Linked DNA regions of Homo sapiens: region 2 is linked to region 1. The links come from fine-mapping of genetic effects on gene expression. A gene starts in region 1. The other region holds a variant in brackets. All regions are shown on one strand. Distances are from middle to middle.

The links. PIP is the estimated chance that this variant, and not a neighbour inherited with it, causes the effect.
Region 2: its variant is the best candidate, but not a certain one, in a credible set for the expression of RABGAP1 in lung (TOPMed, PIP 0.55).

The regions. Positions count from the first base shown.
Region 1 is chr9:122,939,921-122,942,835 of GRCh38, reverse strand. It overlaps RABGAP1 (RAB GTPase activating protein 1), which reads right to left and starts at 1,816. Exons shown (of 26, transcript NM_012197.4): 1 at 1,743-1,816. It overlaps LOC105379839 (a long non-coding RNA gene), which reads left to right and starts at 1,588. Exons shown (of 2, transcript XR_001746924.3): 1 at 1,588-1,697; 2 at 1,901-2,260. RefSeq lists silencers at 1,547-1,876, 1,887-2,046 and enhancers at 1,293-2,017, 2,207-2,276.
Region 2 is chr9:123,192,490-123,195,404 of GRCh38, reverse strand. All of the region lies in intron 2 of STRBP (spermatid perinuclear RNA binding protein), which reads left to right. Among named protein-coding and RNA genes, the nearest start is that of STRBP, 75 kb to the left of the region's middle. The variant A/T (reference allele first, on the strand shown) is at 1,443.

The DNA of each region.
Region 1 (2,915 bases):
GTTAATATCTTGAATTAAAATTACATATGAATTTTAAATGTTACCAATACATAAAAATCAATCATGGATTGAAATTTTATTAATACAAAGTGAACTCTACACAGGAAGATTTATAAAGACTTCTCTTCCCTATTTTGTTTTTTTGTGTTTTTTTTTTTTTTTTTTTGAGACGGAGTCTCGCTCTGTTGCTCAGACTGGAGTGCAATGGCACAATATCGGCCCACTGCAACCTCTGCCTCCCGGGTTCAAGCGATTCTGTTGCCTCAGCCTCCCGATTAGCTGGGACTACAGGCGCCTGCCACTACGCCCGTCTAATTTTTGTATTTTCAGTAGAGACCTGGTTTCACCATATTGGACAGGCTGGTCTCGAACTCCTGACCTTGTGATCCACCCGCCTCAACCTCCTAAAATGCTGGATCACAGGCGTGAACGCACCCGGCCCCTATTTTCAGTTTTCATAAGTAAGCTCTAGTTAAGTCTTCAATACATATTAAATAGCACCTTATACAAACTTGAACTAAGGCAACACGTCCTTCGTTTAAAAAAAAGTTGGATGAACCCTCCTTAGTACCTAAGCTTTTTTTCCCAACTACTTTTCAAACATCAGTTTAATGTTACAAACACAATTCCATTCACCTTCCGTTGTTTTTTTGTTTTGTTTTGTTTTGTTTTTTGTTTCCGAAACAAAAACAGCTGGAAACTCACTTATTGTGTACTTACTACTCCAGGCACACGTTTGTAAATACATGTGAATGGAAATATAAAAGGAATTGTGAAACCCTGTCCCTAACAGGTTTTTTTCCCTGACAAAAAGCCAACGAAAGTCAAAAGACCTCAAATTCAAGTTGGAACATGATTTAAAACTAACGGAGCACTAGTAGCGGGAACACTAGCAGCATGATCACTTAACACGGTCTCCTAGGACATTTGTTTCCAAAAAAGAATTCTCGAGTAACCAAAGGTATGCAGATGCGTGAAACGCAGGAGCAGATGATAAACAGTCTGGATGCAGAAGAGCAGAGACCAAAGTACTACCAGGCAATGGACAGCGAACTCCTGGAAGTCTTGAGGTTATCCTTTGGCTCAACACGTAAAACCCTAAGGGTGCGGATAATCAAAAGACACAGCGATGAGGTACTGGGGTAGCTGCTTCAAGGAGATGAGAAGACTGGGATGCCAAGAACGCTTTAATTGCAGACGGGGAAATGAGACTGAAAGACCAACCTGAGATGGCAAAGCGACAGTGAAAACTAGCAAGTCTTTGAAATTTAGGCGCAGCCCAGGACAGCCTGAGGCCCAGGCTAGCTTAAGTCACAGATACAGGCCTAGTGAGCAATGGGGAGAAACTGAGGCGGGGGGGAGCGGCTGGATTCCCAAATAGGACCAAGCATAAAACATTAAAGTCAAGACACAAACCGGCTTTGCTGGGGGACCAGAGGGAGGGCCAAAAACGCAAGACTCAGAAGACCGGCACCCACACAGACAGGGGGAACCGGTTTGGGCAGGGGCTCCCAGAGCGGCCCAGCCTGCGCATGCGCCCTCTCCCCTCCGTCGCAGTTCCCCCTCCCCCCAATCACGGCTCCCCTCAGAACTCGGCCCGTCGAGGGAGCTGAGAGCAGCTCCACTGGCCCGACCCCGCGGGATGAGAAGACAGCTTGGCTCCCCGCAGGGGCCGTCGGAAAATACCCCTGGGGTTGGTAGGTAGGAGGGTGGGAGGAGGAGGAGGGGAAACACGGCCCTACCCGACCTGCCGTCTCCTCCTCCGCCGCCCGCCGCTCGCCGTCCCGGAGGCTCCGCCGCCTGGGCCTCCCAAACCGCCCTGTCCCCGCCCCCCCACCCCTTTACTCACGTGAGAGCGACTTCTTCCGCCCTCCGCCCCGCCCCCTGCCCCGTCTCATAGGTCTGCGACCATGACGAGCGACCCTATTGGCCCAATACCGGGAAGCGAGGCGGAGCTTCCTCTTCTCCGAGCCCCACCTGGGCTTTCAGCCCGCCTCAGGACTGTGCGCCTGCGCGAAGTGCACTGGCTGTGAGCTGGACCTGGGCTGTCTTGTGTATTTGGAGTTGGACAGCCAACTACGTGACTGCAGCCGGGACTGGGGACGATGGAAGCGGACTGGGTAGTACCTGTTGAGCCTAACAAAGGGTACAACCCCAGAGTACTGGTGCTTGAGCAAGGAATCCCCCTGCTCACCTTTCATGTGCAAGTCCTGTTTGAAAATCAGTACTTCACAGTGTAATAAAATTCACCTGGCATTTACTGAGGGCGCACGGTGTGTCAGGGATTGTGATGGTTCTTTATGTGGCTATCTCATTTCAGCTTCACCACAAACCCGTCAGAATGGTACCATTTTTCTCCTTTTATAAAGTAATTTAGCTTTAGTTACAGAATCCAGTCTAGAAGTCAAAACTTCCGACTGCCAAGTCCTAAAACCACTGGTACAACACAGCTGCCTAAAGGCATTTAAGGCACACAAGAGGACAGAAATGGACAAGGTTACATCAGATTGTGACTCAAAGATGAGATTTTTATTTAAAAATCATTCAAAGGTGAAACACAGCAACAGCAATATAATGAAGTTTAAAGTCCCTGTCCTCAATGAATGTACAATGCAGTTGGGAACAAAAACAATGATTATTAAAGTGCTAGTTAAGTCTTATTTTTAAAGAGACCCTATCTTGTCCAGGATGCAGTGCTGTGGCTATTCACAGACGATCATATCACACTCCACCCTCGAACTCCTGGGCTCAAGCTATCCTACCACCTCAGCCTCCTGAGTAGCTGGGACTGTACATAGGCATGCACCACTGCACCTGGCTCATAAGACTTGATAATTTATAAAATAATTCTACAGCCTCTTCCTTACTCTTCCCCTTTATTTATTCCAACTGGCATATGCTCTTTTCCTGGTGAG
Region 2 (2,915 bases), 250 kb before region 1:
TTTGGCTTCTTTCCAATTTGAATGCTCCTTATTTCATTCTCTTGTCTGATTATTTTAGCTAGGACTTCCCAATAGTCAGATTTTAGATAGTGTTGTAAGGTATAGGTAACAGGATTTAATGATGGATCAGATGTGAGATGTGGGAGGAAGAAAGGAGTCAGGGATGACTTTCAAGTTTTTGGCATGAACAATTAAAGGGATGAAGTAGTTGCCTTCTCTTGAGGGAGGGAAGACCAGGAGGAGCAAACTTGTGTGGTTTTTTGTTTTGTTTTGTTTTGTTTTTTGTTTTTGATGCATTAGGTTTAAGATGCTTATTAAACATCCAAGTGGATGTGTTGATTATTTATTTGAATGTGAATTTGGAACTCAGGTCCATATGAATTTGGGAGATCCTCAGTATATAGATGGTATTTAAAGTCTCAAACCTAGATAACATTGCCAAGGGAATGTTGAAGGTAAGATAGAGAAGAGATGAAGTCTGAGGGCTGAGTCTTGAGGCACTTCAGCGTTTAGAGGTTGTGGAGATAAAGAAGAAAAGGATACAAGGGAGTAATTTATAAAGTAGGAGGAGAACTAAGAGAGTGGTGTCTTAGATGGAAGCCAAGGGGAGTAAAGTGTAGGGAACAGTCAACTGTGTCAACTGTTGCTGAGAAGTCAACTAAGAGGAGGACTGAGAATTATTCACAGCATTAAATACCATGGAAATCCTAGGGGACCTTGACAAGAGCTGTTTTGATGGAGCATTGGGATGAGAGGCTGATTGGGATGGTTTTAAGAGAGAATGGAAGGAGAGGAAATAAAAACCCAAAGTGTAAACTCAGTTATGCTCTAGAATGAGAGCAGAGAATTGGGCTAGTAGCTGTAGCAAAGCAAGAGGTCAAGGATGGTTTTTAATGTTTTTTCCCTTTTTATTTTTATTGATGGGTGCTATTACAACATGTGGGAATGCTGATAGAAATGACTCAGTAGAATGGGTAAAATGGATGATACAGGAGAGGAAAGAGAGAAGAGGGGATGATTACTGAGTGACATCCCAAGTAGGCAAAAGGAGGTGGGATCCAGTAGAGTTTGAGTTCAGGAATTTGCATTAGATAGGAATGGGGACAGTTCATTTATAATAACAGGAAGGAAGAATATATGGTTAATGATGCAGCAAGGTTGGCAATTTGCATGAAGTAGGAAGCAGGGTGACCTGTTGAATATGAAGAGGTAAGAGTATAGATGTTTGAAGAGACAAGAGAAGTGTGAGAAAATCATTAGGAGAGTGAGGAAGTGAATGAACATTTAACTTTTTCATTGAGGCTCCTACTTGCATTTTAGGTGGGACAGATCTTGGACACGGCAGGATATTTTGCATTCCAGGGTCCCAAATGCCAGGATTACCTACCTAGTCATTCTTACAACTAAAAAAACTTGACTTCACATTTTCACATCCCTTTAGA[A/T]CTATTGATTATTGGGCCTTTTGAGGCTAATGGTCATGAAAAAGACTAATTAGCATGATTATGTGATACTTTTTTTTCTTAGTTATATTTAATGGTACATGGTTAATGATGTGGTGTGGCCAAGAGGCTTGGATTTAACAGGGTTAGAGTTTTGCTAGGAGAAGGAAAGAGAAGCAGTTGCTGGTATGAATGATAAATGATGGATCACGTAATTTCGGTTGGATAAGGACAGAAATGAGGGCATGAAAAGGATGAGGGACTGTGAAAAGTGGTAGCATTAGCGATTGTAGGTCCCGGTGGGGCGTGTTTGTCTAAAATAGGAAAGAAGATGAGAACATTGGAGGAAAGGAATACAAGGACTGGAGAAGCCTGAATTTTAGAAGGGTCATCTCTGCGGTTATTAAAATTCTAATATTTATGCCAGAAGTAAAGTTGAGTGTGTCACTGAGCTAAGTACAGCACTAAAGTCCTGAAGGAATGGGATAGGGTTTGGGGGATTAATCCAAGATGGAGAAGTCAAATAAGTAATGGAATTTGTGCTTATGGAGGACGAGTCAGAAATTCCCTGTTAGTCACTGTGGTGATGACTGCCATGGAAATAATGGGAAGAGATGGTGACCTTTTGGATGGAACCTCCTTAGATTCTGTGGTTATGGCACTCTAAGGAAGGATAAATTTAGGGTTGAATTCAAATTCTATTGAGCCTCTGCTGAGTGCAGGGCGATGTACTAGGTGCTGTGGAGATAATAGTAAATCATATCATTAAAACTGAGTAATAGAAATATAAAGGAAGCTGAAAAAGTGCTGGATGGCTCAAAGGAGGAAGAAATTATATAAACTGAAGTATTAGGTAAGGCTTCATGGAGGGGTAGATTTGAGATGGGCATTTGATGAATAGAACAATGACAAATCATGATGGCGTAGTGGCTGCAGTCCAGGTAAGGGAATCGTTTAACTCAAGCTTAGCGGTAGCACATTGCAAGGTGTTCTGGCATAGAGTCATTATTCCCGTGTTGACTGGAGCTGTGGTGGTGAGAGAAATGACAAGAATGACGATAGGACCTTGGATGCCACTGAATATTTGAGTTTAGTGCCAGTTGCTTAGGTAATTAGTGGTTATTGAAGGTTTTGAAGAGGAGTCTGATGTTCTCAAGGTAAAATTTTCCTCAATGATGGGCTGAAATGGGAATAGTATAGGAGAGGATAAATCCCCGTAAATGGTAAAACATAGTAAAACAACTTTACACAGTGGTATACAAGACTTCCAAATATGTAAGTATCCTTGAATTATTAGATATCTGTAGTAGTAAAACAAGGATTAAAACAAGATTCCTGTTCCTATGCACTATCCCCCTTTCCCTTTTTAAAAATTGAGATGGGGGTCTCTGTATGTTGGCTAGGCTAGGCATGAACTTCTGAGCTCAAATGACCCTCCCCTGAGCTCAAATGATCCTCCTACTTCAGCCTCCCGAC